Linked DNA regions of Homo sapiens: region 2 is linked to region 1. The links come from fine-mapping of genetic effects on gene expression. Tissue or cell type: transverse colon. Region 1 holds a variant in brackets; the other region holds the start of a gene. All regions are shown on one strand. Distances are between the middles of the regions.

Evidence for each region. PIP is the estimated chance that this variant, and not a neighbour inherited with it, causes the effect.
Region 2: ZNF197 starts here. The variant in region 1 is fine-mapped to the expression of ZNF197 in transverse colon (GTEx, PIP above 0.99).

The regions. Positions count from the first base shown.
Region 1 is chr3:44,816,900-44,825,003 of GRCh38, forward strand. All of the region lies in intron 20 of KIF15 (kinesin family member 15), which reads left to right. Among named protein-coding and RNA genes, the nearest start is that of MIR564, 41 kb to the right of the region's middle. The variant C/T (reference allele first, on the strand shown) is at 4,207.
Region 2 is chr3:44,621,088-44,629,191 of GRCh38, forward strand. ZNF197 (zinc finger protein 197) reads left to right here and starts at 3,949. Exons shown (of 6, transcript NM_006991.5): 1 at 3,949-4,056; 2 at 7,987-8,104. The coding sequence starts at 8,068. ZNF660-ZNF197 (ZNF660-ZNF197 readthrough) reads left to right here. Exons shown (of 8, transcript NR_147692.2): 3 at 7,987-8,104. All of the region lies in intron 2 of ZKSCAN7-AS1 (ZKSCAN7 ZNF cluster antisense RNA 1), which reads right to left. ZNF197-AS1 (ZNF197 antisense RNA 1) reads right to left here and starts at 3,710. Exons shown (of 2, transcript NR_046658.1): 1 at 3,635-3,710. RefSeq lists a silencer at 3,953-4,302 and an enhancer at 4,282-4,784.

The sequences.
Region 1 (8,104 bases):
TTTTGTTCCCTGACTTTAATGATTGCCATTCTAACTGGTGTGAGATGGTGTCTCATTGTGGTTTTGATTTGCATTTATCTGATGACCAGTGATGATGAGCATTTTTTTCATGTGTCTCTTGGCTGCATAAATGTTTTTTTTTTGAGAAGTGTCTGTTCATATCCTTTGCCCACTTTTTGATGAGGTTGTTTGTTTTTTTCTTGTAAATTTGTTTAAGTTCTTTGTAGATTCTGGATATTAGCCCTTTGTCAGATGGGTAGATTGCAAAAATTTTCTCCCATTCTGTAGGTTGCCTGTTCACTCTGATGGTCATTTCTTTTGCTGTGCAGAGGCTCTTTAGTTTAATTAGATCCCATTTGTCTATTTTGTCTTTTGTTGCCATTGCTTTTGGTGTTTTACTCATGAAGTCTTTGCCCATGCGTATGTCTTGAATGGTATTGCCTAGGTTTTCTTCTAGGGTTTTTATGGTTTTAGGTCCAACATTTAAGTCTTTAATCCATCTTGAATTAATTTTTGTATAAAGTGTAAGGAAGGGATCCAGTTTCAGCTTTCTACATATGGCTAGCCAGTTTTCCCAGCACCATTTATTAAACAGGAAACCCTTTCCCCATTTCTTGTTTTTCTCAGGTTTGTCAAAGATCAGATGGTTGTAGATGTGTGGTATTATTTCTGAGACCTATGTTCTGTTCCGTTGGTCTATATCTCTGTTTTGGTACCAGTACCATGCTGTTTTGGTTACTGTAGCCTTGTAGTATAGTTTGAAGTCAGGTAGCGTGATGCCTCCAACTTTGTTCTTTTGGCTTAGGATTGTCTTGGCAATGCGGGCTCTTTTTTGGTTACATATGAACTTTAAAGTAGTTTTTTCCAATTCTGTGAAGAAAGTCATTGATAGCTTGATGGGGATGGCATTGAATCTATAAAATTATCTTGGGCAGTATGGCCATTTTCACAATATTGATTCTTCCTACCCATGAGCATGGAATGTTCTTCCATTTGTTTGTGTCCTCTTTTATTTCGTTGAGCAGTGGTTTGTAGTTCTCCTTGAAGAGGTCCTTCACATCCCTTGTAAGTTGGATTCCTAGGTATTTTATTCTCTTTGTAGCAGCTGTGAATGGGAGTTCACTCATAATTTGGCTCTCCGTTTGTCTGTTATTGGTACATAGGAATGCTTGTGATTTTTGCACATTGATTTTCTATCCTGAGACTTTGCTGAAGTTGCTTATCAGCTTAAGGAGATTTTGGGCTGAGATGATGGGGTTTTCTAAATATACAATCATGTCATCTGCAAACAGGGACAATTTGACTTCCCCTTTTCCTAATTGAATACACTTTATTTCTTTCTCTTGCCTGATTGCCCTGGCCAGAACTTCCAACACTATATTGAAGAGGAGTGGTAAGAGAGGGCATCCCTGTCTTGTGCCAGTTTTCAAAGGGAATGCTTCCAGTTTTTGTCCATTCAGTATGATATTGGCTGTGGGTTTGTCATAAATAGCTCTTATTATTTTGAGATACGTTCCATCAATATCTAGTTTATTGAGAGTTTTTAGCATGAAGTGCTGTTGAATTTTGTCGAAGGCCTTTTCTGCATCTATTGAGATAATCATGTGGTTTTTGTCATTGGTTCTGTTTATGTGATGGATTGCATTTATTGATTTGCGTATGTTGAAGCAGCCTTGCATGCCATAGATACAGCCGACTTTATTGTGGTGGATAAGCTTTTTGATGTGCTGCTGGATTCACTTTGCCAGTATTTTATTGAGGATTTTTGCATCGATGTTCATCAGAAATATTGATCTAAAATTCTCTTTTTTTGTTGTGTCTCTGCCAGGCTTTGGTATCAGGATGATGCTGGCCTCATAAAATGAGTTAGGGAGTATTCCCTCTTTTTCTATTGATTGGAATAGTTTCAGAAGGGATGGTACCAGCTCCTCTTTGTACCTCTGATAGAATTTGGCTGTGAATCCGTCTGGTCCTAGACTTTTTTTGGTTGCTAGGCTATTAATTATGGCCTCAATTTCAGAGCCTGTTATTGGTGTATTCAGAGATTCAGCTTCTTCCTGGTTTAGTCTTGGGAGGGTGTATGTGTCCAGGAATTCATCCATTTCTTCTAGATTTTCTAGTTTATTTGCGTAGAGGTGTTTATAGTATTCTCTGATGGTAGTTTGTATTTCTGTGGGATAGGTGGTGATATCCCCTTTATCATTTTTTATTGCATCTATTTGATTCTTCTCTCTTTTCTTCTTTATTAGTCTTGCTAGCAGTCTTATCAATTTTGTTGATCTTTTCAAAAAACCAGCTCCTGGATTCATTAATTTTCTGAAGGGTTTTTTATGTCTCTATCTCCTTCAGTTCTGCTCTGATCTTAGTTATTTCCTGCCTTCTGCTAGCTTTTGAATTTGTTTGCTCTTGCTTCTCTAGTTCTTTTAATTGTGATGTTAGGGTGTCGATTTTAGATCTTTCCTGCTTTCTCCTGTGGGCATTTAGTGCTATGAATTTCCCTCTACACACTGCTTTGAATGTGTCCCAGAGATTCTGGTACATTGTATCTTTGTTCTCATTGATTTCAAAGAACATCTTTATTTCTGCCTTCATTTCGTTATTTACCCAGTAGTCATTCAGGAGCAAGTTGTTCAGTTTCCATGTAGTGGTGCAGTTTTGAGTGAGTCTCTTAATCCTGAGATCTAATTTATTGCACTGTGGTCTAAGAGACAGTTTGTTGTGATTTCTGTTTTTTTTACATTTGCTGAGGAGTGCTTTACTTTTAACTATGTGGTCAATTTTGGAATAAGTGCGATGTGGTGCTGAGAAGAATGTATATTCTGTTGATTTGGGGTGGAGAGTTCTGTAGATGTCTATTAGGTCCGCTTGGTCCAGAGCTGAGTTCAAGTCCTGGATACCCTTGTTAACCTTCTGTCTCATTCATCTGTCTAATATTGACAGTGGGGTGTTAAAGTCTCCCATTATTATTGTGTGGGAGTCTAAGTCTCTTTGTAGGTCACTCAGGACTTGCTTTATGAATCTGGGTGCTCCTGTATTGGGTGCATATATATTTAGGATAGTTAGCTCTTTTTGTTGAATTGATCCCTTTATCATTATGTAATGGCCTTCTTTGTCTCTTTTGATCTTTGTTGGTTTAAAGTCTGTTTTATCAGAGACTAGGATTGCAATCGCTGGTTTTTTTTGCTTTCCATTTGCTTGGTAGATCTTCCTCCATCCCTTTATTTTGAACCTATGTGTGTCTCTGCACGTAAGATGGGTCTCCTGAATACAGCACACCAATGGGTCTTGACTATCCAATTTGCCAGTTGGTGTCTTTTAATTGGGGCATTTAGCCCATTTACATTTAAGGTTAATATTGTTATGTGTGAATTTGATCCTGTCATTATGATGTTAGCTGGTTATTTTGCTCGTTAGTTGATGCAGTTTCTTTTTTTTTTCCTTTTTTTTTTTTAAACTTTTATTTATTTTTTATTGATCATTCTTGGGTGTTTCTCACAGAGGGGGATTTGGCAGGGTCACAGGACAATAGTGGAGGGAAGGTCAGCAGATAAACAAGTGAACAAAGGTCTCTGGTTTTCCTAGGCGGAGGACCCTGCGGCCTTCCGCAGTGTTTGTGTCCCTGGGTACTTGAGATTAGGGAGTGGTGATGACTCTTAACGAGCATGCTGCCTTCAAGCATCTGTTTAACAAAGCACATCTTGCACCGCCCTTAATCCATTTAACCCTGAGTGGACACAGCACATGTTTCAGAGAGCACAGGGTTGGGGGTAAGGTCACAGATCAACAAGATCCCAAGGCAGAAGAATTTTTCTTAGTACAGAACAAAATGAAAAGTCTCCCATGTCTACCTCCTACTACACAAACACGGCAACCATCCGATTTCTCACTCTTTTCCCCACCTCTCCCCACTTTCTACTCCACAAAACCGCCATTGTCATCATGGCCCGTTCTCAATGAGCTGCCGGGCACACCTCCCAGACGGGGTGGTGGCCGGGCAGAGGGGCTCCTCACCTCCCAGTAGGGGCGGCCGGGCAGAGGCGCCCCTCACCTCCCGGACGGGGTGGCTGGCCGGGCAGGGGGCTGACCCCCCCACCTCCCTCCCGGACGGGGCGGCTGGCCGGGCGGGGGGGCTGACCCCCCCACCTCCCTCCCGGATGGGGCGGCAGGCCGGGTGGCGGGCTGACCCCCCCCACCTCCCTCCCGGAC[C/T]GGGCGGCTGGCCGGGCGGGGGGCTGACCCCCCCACCTCCCTCCCGGACGGGGCAGCTGGCCGGGCAGAGGGGCTCCTCACTTCCCAGTAGGGGCGGCTGGGCAGAGGCGCCCCTCACCTCCCGGACGGGGCGGCTGGCCGGGCGGAGGGCTGACCCCCCCACCTCCCTCCTGGACGGGGCGGCTGGCCTGGCGGTGGGTGACCCCCACCTCCTTCCTGGACGGGGTGGCTGCGGGGCGGTGACGCTCCTCACTTCTCAGACGGGGCGGCTTCCGGGCGGAGGGGCTCCTCACTTCTCAGACGGGGCGGTCGGGCAGAGACGCTCCTCTCCTCCCAGACGGGGTTGCGGCCGGGTAGAGGCACTCCTCACATCCCAGACGGGGCGGCGGGGCAGAGGCGCTCCCCACATCTCAGACGATGAGTGGCCGGGCAGAGACGCTCCTCACTTCCTAGATGGGATGGCGGCCGGGAAGAGGCGCTCCTCACTTCCTAGATGGGATGGCGGCTGGGAAGAGGCGCTCCTCACTTTCCAGACTGGGCAGCCAGGCAGAGGGGCTCCTCACGTCCCAGATGATGGGCGGCCAGGCAGAGACGCTCCTCACTTCCCAGACAGGGTGGCGGCTGGGCAGAGGCTGCAGTCTCGGCACTTTGGGAGGCCAAGGCAGGCGGCTGGGAGGTGGAGGTTGTAGCGAGCTGAGATCACGCCACTGCACTCCAGCCTGGGCAACATTGAGCATTGAGTGAACCAGACTCCGTCTGCAATCCCGGCACCTCGGGAGGCCGAGGCTGGCGGATCACTCGCGGTTAGGAGCTGGAGACCAGCCCGGCCAACACAGCGAAACCCCGTCTCCACCAAAAAAATACGAAAACCAGTCAGGCGTGGCGGTGCGTGCCTGCAATTGCAGGCACTCGGCAAGCTGAGGCAGGAGAATCAGGCAGGGAGGTTGCAGTGAGCTGAGATGTCAGCAGTACCGATGCAGTTTCTTCCTAGCGTCGATGGTCTTTACAATTTGGCATGTTTTTGCAGTGGCTGGTACTGGTTGTTCCTTTCCATTTTTAGTGCTTTCTTTAGGAGCTCTTGTAAGTCAGGCCTGATGGTGACAAAATCTCTCAGCATTTGCTTGTCTGTAAAGGATTTTATTTCTCCTTCACTTATGAATCTTAGTTTGGCTGGATATGAAATTCTGGGTTGAAAATTCTTTATTTAAGAATGTTGAATATTGCCCCCCACTCTCTTCTGGCTTGTAGAGTTTCTGCTGAGAGATCCGCTGTTAGTCTGATGGGCTTCCCTTTGTGGGTAACCCGACCTTTCACTCTGGCTGCCCTTAACATTTTTTCCTTCATTTCAACCTTGGTGAATCTGACAATTATGTGTCTTGGGGTTGCTCTTCTCGAGGAGTATATTTGTGGTATTCTCTGTTTTTCCTGAATTTGAATGTTGGCCTGCCTTGCTAGGTTGGGGAAGTTCTCCTGGATAATATCCTGAAGAGTGTTTTCCAACTTGGTTCCATTATCCCCATCACTTTCAGGTACACCAATCAAATGTAGATTTGGTCTTTTCACATAGTCCCATGTTTCTTGGAGGCTTTGTTCATTTCTTTTTACTCTTTTTTCTCTAAACTTCTCTTCTCGCTTTATTTCATTGATTTGATCTTCACTCAGTGATACCCTTTCTTCCACTTGATCGAATCGACTGTTGAAGCCTTGTGCAGGTGTCATGAAGTTCTCATGCTCTGGTTTTCAGCCCCATCAGTTCATTTAAGGTCTTCTCTACACTGTTTATTCTAGTTAGCCATTCGTCTAATCTTTTTTCAAGGTTTTTAGCTTCCTTGCATTGGGTTTGAACATGGTCCTTTAGCTTGTCGAAGTTTGTTATTACCGACCTTCTGAAGCCTACTTCTGTCAACTCGTCAAAGTTATTCTCGTCCAGCTTTGTTCTATTGCTGGTGAGGAGCTACAATCCTTTGGAGGAGAAGAGGCGCTCTGGTTTTTAGAATTTTCAGCTTTTCTCCTGTGGTTTCTCCCCATTTTTGTGGTTTTATCTACCTTTGGTCTTTGATATTGGTGACTGACAGATGGGGTTTTGGTATGGATGCCCTTTTTGTTGGTGTTGATGCTATTCCTTTCTGTTTGTTAGTTTTCCTTCTAACAGTCAGGTCCCTCAGCTGCAGCTCTGTTGGTGTTTGCTGGAGGCTCACTCCAGACCCTGTTTGCCTGGGTATCACCAGCGGAGGCTGCAGAACAGCAAATATTGCTGCCTGATCCTTCCTCTGGAAGCTTCGTCCCAGAGGGGCACCCACCTGTATGAGGTGTCAGTCGGCCCCTACTGGGAGGTTTATCCCAGTTAGGCTACACAGAGGTCAGGGACCCACTTGAGGAGGCAGTCTGTCCATTCTCAGTGCTCAAACACCGTGTTGGGAGAACCACTGTACTCTTCAGAGCTATCAGACAGGGATGTTTAAGTCTGCAGAGGTTTCTGCTGCCTTTTGCTCAGCTATGCTCTGCCCCCACAGGTGGAATCTATAGAGGCAGCCGGCCTTGCTGAGCTGTGGTGGGCTCCACCCAGTTCAAGCTTCCAGGCCGCTTTGTTTACCTACTCAAGCCTCAGCAATGGCGGATGGCCCTCCCCCTGCCAGGCTGCTGCCTCACAGGTCGATCTCAGACTGCTGTGCTAGCAGTGAGTGAGGCTCCGTGGGCGTGGGACCCACCGAGCTAGGTGCGGGATATAATCTTCTGGTATGCCATTTGATAAGACCATTGGAAAAGCTCAGTATTATGGCAGAAGTGTCCCATTTTTCCAGGTACAGTCTGTCATGGCTTCCCTTGGCTAGGAAAGGGAAATTCCCCGACCCCTTGCGCTTCCTGGGTGAGGCGACGCCCACCCTGCTTCAGCTTGCCCTCCGTGGTCTGCACCCACTGTCCAACCAGTCCCAGTGAGATGAACCAGGTACCTCAGTTGGAAATGTAAAAATCACCCATCTTCTGCATCGATCCCGCTGGGAGCTGCAGACTGCAGCTCTTCCTGTTTGGCCATCTTGCCTAATTCACATACATTTTTCTTAGGCCTGCCCAGTGGCTAAAGAAAAATAAATGAACATAGCATTTTAAAAATTGAGTGTTTTATTATAAAAATCTATATTTCAGCATTCTCTAGCAAAGTCATACTATTTGGTACCACTAGGCCCACATCCCTGCATGGCAGCCATCAGTTGCTGCAAAATTCACCCCTTTCTCTTTAGAGACAGAATGTGCTGTCTGGGTCAGCACAGCCTCCACCACCCTGTCCCATTTCCCCAGCACCAAGTCCACTTATCTAGTTGTCTGATTGGCCTGTAATCTACTTGAAGTGCAGTGGTATAACCCAACTCAAATTAGTTAAACAAAATAGGTAATTTATTGATAACTTATCACAGGTGCACTGTTGCCTTCTCTTACCCTTAGCATTTGTTTTAACTTCTGAATCACTGGATCTAATAATCTTGGCCTCAACTCAAACTATTTTGTGTAATTTGTTTTGAAGTCACTAATCTCATGGGATCTTAATTTCCTAATGTTTATATGTCAGAGTTGAACTACATCAAAAAATGTTAAGAATCCACTATATTTTGCTACATACTTAAATTCTATTTTCATCATTAAATACTTCCTAGGTTTGTTTGTTTGTTTGTTTTTGAGACAGTGTCTCACTTTGTCACCCAGGCTGGAGCACAGTGGCATAAACACGGCTTACTGCAGCCTCAATATCCCGGGCTCAAGCTGTCCTCCCACCTCAGCTCCCCACATAGCTGGGACTACAGGCACATGCCAGTGCACCCAGCTAATTTTTGTATTTTTTGTAGAGACAGAGTTTCGCCATGTTGTCCAGGCTGTTTTCAAACCCCTGAGCTCAAGCAGTCCA
Region 2 (8,104 bases), 200 kb before region 1:
AAATAACTAATGCCCTGAACTGTATTTGGAAGAATCCATATGTGATAGTTCATTTTACATGTTAACTTGAATGGGCCATAGTGTGCCCAGACATTTGGCTAAACATTATTCTGAGTGTCTGTGGGGGTATCTCTGGATGAGATTAACATCTGAATCTGTAGACTGATTGCCCTCCTTAACATGAGTGAGCCTCATCCAAGCCATTGGAGATGTGAGTAGAAGGAAAAGACTGAGAGAGAATTTGCTCTTTCTGCCTGTCTTCTGGCTGGGACATTGGTCTTCTCCCACCTTTGGTGATATGGTTTAGATTTCTGTCCCCGCCCAAATCTCATGTCAAACTGTAATTCCCAATGTTGGAGGTGGGGCCTGATGGGAGGTGATTGGATCATAGGGATGGCTTTACCCCTTGGCTCTGTGTTGAGATAGTGAGTGAGACCTGGTTGTTTAAAAGTGTGTAGCACCTCCCTCCTCCCCCGACCCTTGGTCCTTCTGCTGCCACATAAGACATCTGCTCCCACTTTGCCTTCCCCCATGAGTTCCCTGAGGCCTCCCCAGAGGCAGATGGTACCATGATTCCTGTACAGCCTGCAGAACTGTGAGCCAATTAAACCTCTTTTCTTTATAAAGTTCCCAATCTCAGGCATTTCTTTATAGCAGTGCGAGAACAGACTAACACATTTGGATTCCGACTAGGACTCAGACTGGAAGTTACACCAGCAGCTTTTCTGCTTCTTAGGCCTATAGATCTTGGACTACAACTATACCTTCAGCTCTCCTGGGTCTTCAGATTGCATGTCTTGAGATTTCTTAGCCATATATATTATATACATATAATCCTTGGTCATAGGTCAATCACATTCCAATTTGCATTAAAAACAACTCTGGCAAAGTGGGGTTTTATAGAAAGATGAGAAATACAAACTTTCCATTCAGACCGGGATTTCCATTTTAGTTGATCAGTAGTCTAAGATCTTAACCCATCTTGAAATGTCAGTCCTGTGCTTCCAGCCTCTTCTCATATGCCTATCTCAAACTCATTTATTTCTTGTTTGCTTAGTTTTTTTCACCAGTACATTTGGGGATTTTAAATACCAGGAATGTGTGTGTATGTAAAACAAAGGCTATGTGTTGTATTATACCACTGTCCCAGAGCTCTGGCCCACTTTAAACAGGTTTTGTATAGTTCCACCTTGGTCAAAGATAGGGTGTTCCTTTCCTATCACCATCATTCCACAAGGTTACCAAGTCTTTCATCTTGGGACAGTGGTGAGGGTGCTTCAAGTTCTTTGTCAGATGGGCAGAATCTCAGGGCACAAACTGAGTGACAAAACTGAGGCTCTGGGCTGGCCACTGGCAACTGGTGGTTCTTACCAGCTGACAACTCTTTGGTTACATGCTTCCGGGCCATTGCTTAGTAGGAGTGTGAATGATTACAGGCTCACTGGTCAGTGGTCCATAGTCTAGTTGGTCATTTTGGCTCCTCCCATTCCTTTCTTCTTTCCCAGCAAGGCAAGAATGTTTTTCACCTTACTAAAGGCTTCTAATGGCCTAACTCACTATCGTTTTTGTCACTTTTGTTTCCAGTCCCATAGTGTGTAACTCCTGTCTACCTAGGTAGGGCAGGGGAGGAGAAGGGAGCCTTGGTTTACAAGTAAAATTATAATTTAGTGTGGGGGGAACAGCAATCACATTGATCAATATTTCAAAATCTACTCATTCATACTTTGAGACCCATAAAGTACTATTTCCTTCTTCTCTTCCTACTTGATTGGCTGCTGCTTCTCAGTCTCCTTTGTTGGGTCCTCCTTACCCTTTTTTATGTCATCCAAAGGACCACCAGGATGGCTAGATAGTAGAAAAGAAAGTTGGCCGGCACAGTGGCTCACACCTGTAATCCTAGCACTTTGGAAGGCCGAGGCGGGTGGATTGCCTGAGCTCAGGAGTTTGAGACCAGCCTGGGCAACACGGTGAAACCCCATCTCTACTAAAATACAAAAAATTAGCCAGGCATGGTGGCGTGCGCTTGTAATCCCAGCTACTCAGGAATCTGAGACAGGAGAATCATTTGAACCCGGGAGGCGGAGGTTGCAGTGAGCGAGATCGCGCCACTGCACTCCAGCCTGGGCGACAGAGTGAGACTCCATCTCAAAAAAAAAAAAAAAAAAAAGAAAGAAAGAAAGAAAAGAAAGTTTTATTCACAACATCAGTTTACAAACTCGGAGAGATAGTCTCTGGCTTGAACTGAAAGTGGTGCTCTCTCTGAAGAACAAAGAGAAGGTTAGAGGTTTTACAAAAAGGAGGAATGTTACATATTGCTCTTTGAGAAAGTTCATTGGCAGTAGTAAGGGTGTGGGGAGCTGACAAGCTCCAGTTGGTGAGCAACTGCGGTGGGCAAAATTAGTCCTAGAGTTGCAGCAACTTATCTCAGAAGCTATAGATAAAACTGGTTTTGGCTTATAATAAGCAGTTTCAGCAGTCAAGCTTACAGAGAATAACATTCCTGGAGCAATGTTGTGTACCCTGAGTGCTTCCCCCAGCTAATTTCTCGACTTTCTTTTATTAGGTATGACAAAAATGACCCAATTCTTATGATCAGCTTTCACATTTCTTAGCATTTACCACCACCTGACACATTTTTATATTTGTTTTCTGTTTATCCCACTAGAAATGTAAGCCCCATGAGAACAGAGACTTTACCTCTTTATCTATGTCCCTAGTGCCCAGAACAGTATTTGGCATATGGCAAGTACTCAGTAGTTGAATGAATGAATGAATCAAGGCTGAAGTTTAAGTATGTTGTTTAATGAATGCCAGGAGAGAACATAAAGAAATAAACAGAATAAGCCTGGCACGGTGGCTCACGCCTGTGATTCCAACACTTTAGAAGGCCAAGGTGGGGGTGGATCACCTGAGGTCAGGAGTTCAAGACCAGCCTGGCCAACATTGTGAAACCCCGTCTCTACTAAAAAAAAAAAAAAAAAAAAAAAATAGCCAGGCATGGTGGCACGTGCCTGTAATCCCAGCTGCTCAGGAGGCTGAGGCAGAAGAATCGCTTGAACCCGGGAGGTGGAGATTGCAGTGAGCCAAGATTGCGCCACTGCACTCCAGCCTGGGCAACAAGAGCAAAACTCCATCTCAAAAAAAAAAAAAAGACATAAACAGAATAACATGAACCTTGCTCATTGAATAAACATTCATCTACAACCTATATGGCTTCAGCTTTGTACTAGGTGCTAAATACATGGGATCCATGCAGACATGGCCTTTGCCCTTTTGGAGACTTGTTTCAGCCATAGTCCCATATAGGGGTGTCAGTTCCAGAAGTCCAAACTTAAGAGACTGAAGACCAAAGAGAGGATCAGAGTGCCAGTTTCCTTTATATACACCTGACTTTACCCAGGGCGATGGACAGCTAGAATAACCTCTTCTTTCAGGGGAGAGATGTCCCTACCATTTGCACATTACCTTGCACCATCAACTTGATTATTATTTAATATCATAGCTCCAATATGTCATCATGTGGGCAAGAGATACACCACAGTAAGCGAATTCACAAGAGGGTGATTTATAAGTCATGTTATTATTTATAGTGAGAATTGCATAAGTTCAAGAAGAGACCAGAAAAGTCACCTACCAGGTCATTCAGACGTGAAGGTCACTCCCTATCAACCTCAATTGAAATGCAAATCAAAATAGAAATGTCCAACTCTCTTAGGAGGCAACAGGCATCCTGAGACCCTGGGTCCTGTCTTTCATCTCTGCACCCTTCCGGTCTGAAACAGCGGCCAGTTCTTGTTCGATGTAAGGAACACTAGTACCCAAGGGCTCAGGAGTTCCGCCTCTCTTCCCCAGTTCTGGGAAAAGAAACGAACCATAGAGATGTGGCTTCCTAGAGATCCGGGATGAGGGGCGGGGTGCAACCGGAAGTCGCAGTATTCTCGGCTCGGCCATTATTCTGTGCCTCGGCTGCCGGAAGGGCTCGTTCCTGTGTCATCTCCTAGCGGCCTGGCGCCGAGGCGGCGGTACGCAAGGCTGGAGCCGCAGCGGGAGCCCCCGGTGAGCGGGGTGGGCTCGGGGGCGGGTGGGCGTGCAGGGAAGGCGGCCCGGGACGCGGGCCTGAGCTTGCTGGGACTGCACAGCCCTCGGTAGCCTCTCCCGGGCCCTGACCCCCGGCATGGTCCGTCGCCAGCTTCGTGTTGGGGTTCGACGTCGTGGCCTCGGCTGGGCAGGCAGCCGGCCCGAGGGAAGTACTGAGGACAGCAGCTCCGAGTCTGTGTGTGTTTGTGGACCGGTGCTCCTGTCTAACGGACTCTGCTGGCGCTTTGAGAAGAGCTGCCTCAGTAGCCTGCTCCCCCAGCTCAGGCCTTTCTGCTCTTCCTCAGTCTTGTCTGAGGCTAATCCACAGAAACATTCTGAGGTTTCCCTATTACCGGTGGCGCCCAGACTCTTGAGGACGGATTTTTTTGTTTGTTTGTTTTAAGGGGTGGAACGATTTTAGCTTTTTTAGTCTTTTAGTTTTGTAATATAATGGTATTTAAAAATCAAACTTGAAAAACTCAAACTTGAAACCACCCATACCAACATTACTTCAGGCAATACATTTTAACACAAAGTACTAAGACCGTAAACTCAGAATAAATGCTGGCCTTTGCGCGCGCGCGCGCACACACACACACACACACACACACACACACACACACTCATTGCCAACCTGTCAGCGACGATTGTTACTGGTTTTCTCTTTTTGCAGCTTACCAGATTAAAGCTTTGTCGTGGACTGGTGTTTGGAAACTGTTGTTTTAGAACAGTTTGGGTTGTTTGGGTTTCATAAGTTTCTTCGTAGATGGAATTGTTTTGGACTTCTGGAATTAGAATCCCTGAATTCAGAATTTGCTCCCATGTCTCAGTTAGCTAAGTGGCCTTGAGTGGATTCGCTCCTCTGATCCTTTTGTTTTTTTTAACTTCTGCTTTGAAAACCTTTTGTGAGAAGCTAATAAAATGTATGTTTAAGAATTTGTTATTTTTATGTTATTTGAAAATTATTCAAAATTCTTTTTAAAAATTCCTTTCCATCACCCCCAGATCAGTTACCAAGGACTACCAAGTTTTTCTCAATTGCCTTATCCCTACTTCGTTTAGAACTTAAGTCATGTGTTTAGACTATTAGAAAAACCTAACTGACCTTTCTTGATATCCAGCCCTCCCACCCCCACCATTTCTCACTAATAGAGTCCTGACACCACTTAAGACTCTCTTCATGCTCAGAGTGAAAAAGGTCTTTCTAATTGTGGTACAGTACCCAGAAGTCGTAAAAGATTGACTGCATGGCAAAAAACACTTTAAGCAAAGTCACATGGCATATATAGTCACAAAGACACTTGACAAACTGAGAAAAATTTGCAGCTGCCATTGTAAACAAAGGACTAATTTTCCTGTGATAAAAGTGTGTACAAATTAACAAGACCCAACACCTCAATGGAAACATGGGCAAAATATATGAATAGTTACTTTAAAAAATATACAAATGACTCTATATTAATTCGTTCAAAATGCAAGTCAAAAATTTGGCGAAGAGCACAAACTTTGAGAAACATATTGGTGAAAGTGAGGAAAGGCACTCCCATACAGCTGTTTCTGATGGGAGTATAAATTATAAATTGGTTCAATCCTAGTGAGGTCAAATTGGCAATATCAAAATTATACATGTATATACCTTTTAACTCAGCAATTCTGATTCAAGGAATTTTTCTTATATATGCCTACACACATCCAAACTGATGTATGCCCAAGATTATTCATGATTATATTGTTGGTAATAAGAAATGATTGAAAACTACCCAAACATTCCATCAGTGCTGGCATGAATAAATTATGATACATCTATGCATCCATAAAAATGCGGAGAGGGGCTGTGTATTGACAGGAAAGATCTCTAAGACATATTATTGAGAAGAGGAAAATGTACCACGTCATTCATGGTGTCCTACCATTTGTGAAAAAAAGGGAACTAGAAAACAATATATGTACACACATATGCAGAAATAACTGGAAAGATAGATAAGAAGCTAACGGAGAAGGAAACTTTACACAGTATACATTTTATAATTTTAAATTTTGAACCAAGTGAATATATTACTATTTTTAAAAATAAGGAAAAATGTAAAGTAAAGCCTCTTTAATGCTGAAATGTAAGTAAAATCACTTCACTTACAGGACAGGATCATCTCCTCAGAATACTGCCTCTCAAGAGCAGTAGTTAGAATTTAACTTCTGTTCACCTCTCTGCTCTACTCCTACACTCTTGCCTCTGAAGTTTACTTTCCTTCTCTGGTCTTCCTTCACAGAGTTATGTGTCCTTCCTTGCTTTTGAAAATAGAGTTTCTTTCTTCCTGGAATGGCTTTCCTCATAGTCCAATGATCCTTTTATTTTTCCTTAAAAGCCCAATCCAAAAGTACCTTTCATGGCTGGGTATGGTGGCTCATGCCTGTAATCTCAGCACTTTGGGAGTCCAAGGCAGGCAGATCACGAGGTCAAGAGATTGAGACCATCCTGGCCAACATTGCGAAACCCCGTCTCTACCAAAAATACAAAAATTACCTGGGCATGGTGGTGCGAGCCTGTAGTACCAGCTGCCTGGAAAGCTGAGACAGGAAAATTGCTTGAACCTGTCAAGCAGAGGTTGCGCTGAGCCGAGATCATGCCACTGCACTCCAGCCTGGGTGACAGAGCGAGACTCCATCTCAAAAAAAAAAAAAAAAAGAAATTTCCTTTCATGAATCCTTTCTGTAGTTTTATGTTCTCCTATTACTTGTACTTAAACATTATATTGAAATTATGTTTATATTTCTGGCTCCCCTGTTTGTTATAAGCAAGCTCTCTTTAAGGGTCTGTGTGTTCAAATAAAGAGGATGTTTTCATATGTCACTGATGGTGATATAACTGTTATAACCTTAAAAGCTTAAAAATGTTTTTATCCTTCAGCCCAACAATTTTCTCCTAGGAGTTTATCCTGAAGAAATAAGCAGAGATGTAACTAAAAATTTGTTATCAAGGATAGCCGTTGTGACCTTATTAATAATAGGGGAAAGTTAGAATTTATCTATGATAATTAAACTATGGTAAGGACATAGTTCAGAATAATAGCAGTGATTGTTTTCTGGTTTTGTGTGTTTTCTGGTTTTATAATTAGAAAAATGTTATTTCTAAAGAGCAGATGATTTCTAGAGAGCAAGTCTAAGTTCTGTATAATAAAACTCTATTCATATTTATCCATCTGTGGGACTAGATGTGAAAGGAAAAGAAGAAAAGGCAAATTTATCCAAATATTTTGATTAACAGAAAGAACAATTTTCAGAGAATTAAAGGCATGTAGAGCAAAACTACACAGAACTTAATTCATCCTTTCTTTGTTAATTGAGGAGGTGGTTAGGATTTTCTCTCATATGTATCATGATTAATGATTACTTGTTAACTCTGCGGAACATAGGAAAGAGTACTAGTTACAGAAGGGTAATAAGTAACATTTAAACCCGTATACCAGGCACTGTTCAAAAACTTGAAATGTATTATACATCAAATTCTCATGACAACCCCATAAGGTAGGAACTGTTACTATCCCTATTTTACAGGTTAAGAAACTAAGGCTCAGAAGTGAGGTACTTGTTCCAGGTTACACAGGAGTAGTCAGGATGCTCATTGTTAGAGTGGTAAAGAGTCTATTGTAATTAGCTGAAGGGATCCTATGAACAAAGACCAAAGGAAGTTCATGTGTTTGGTTTCAGCAGTCTCGTGCGTAACATGAGTGTTTGTATCCCAGAGCCTTAGGCAGGGGGTTTCTGTCAGAGGAAGCACTCTCTAGAGCCTGGAACCTTGCACTCACAAAGGTTCTCTTTATTACTGGGAGCTGACTGGGAGCTGACTGGGGCCTGGAAAGCTCAGTTGTTTCTCTGGGCTAACTTTAACAATGATTTCTTGAGGTCTTGTAGATGATACTCTCCAAGCTGTAAGGAAGAAGTCAAGGATTAAGGAGACCTGGACTGGAGAGGAGCCTTTTTCAAAAAACAACAATGACAAGAGAAAATGTAGCCCACAATGCTCTGAGAC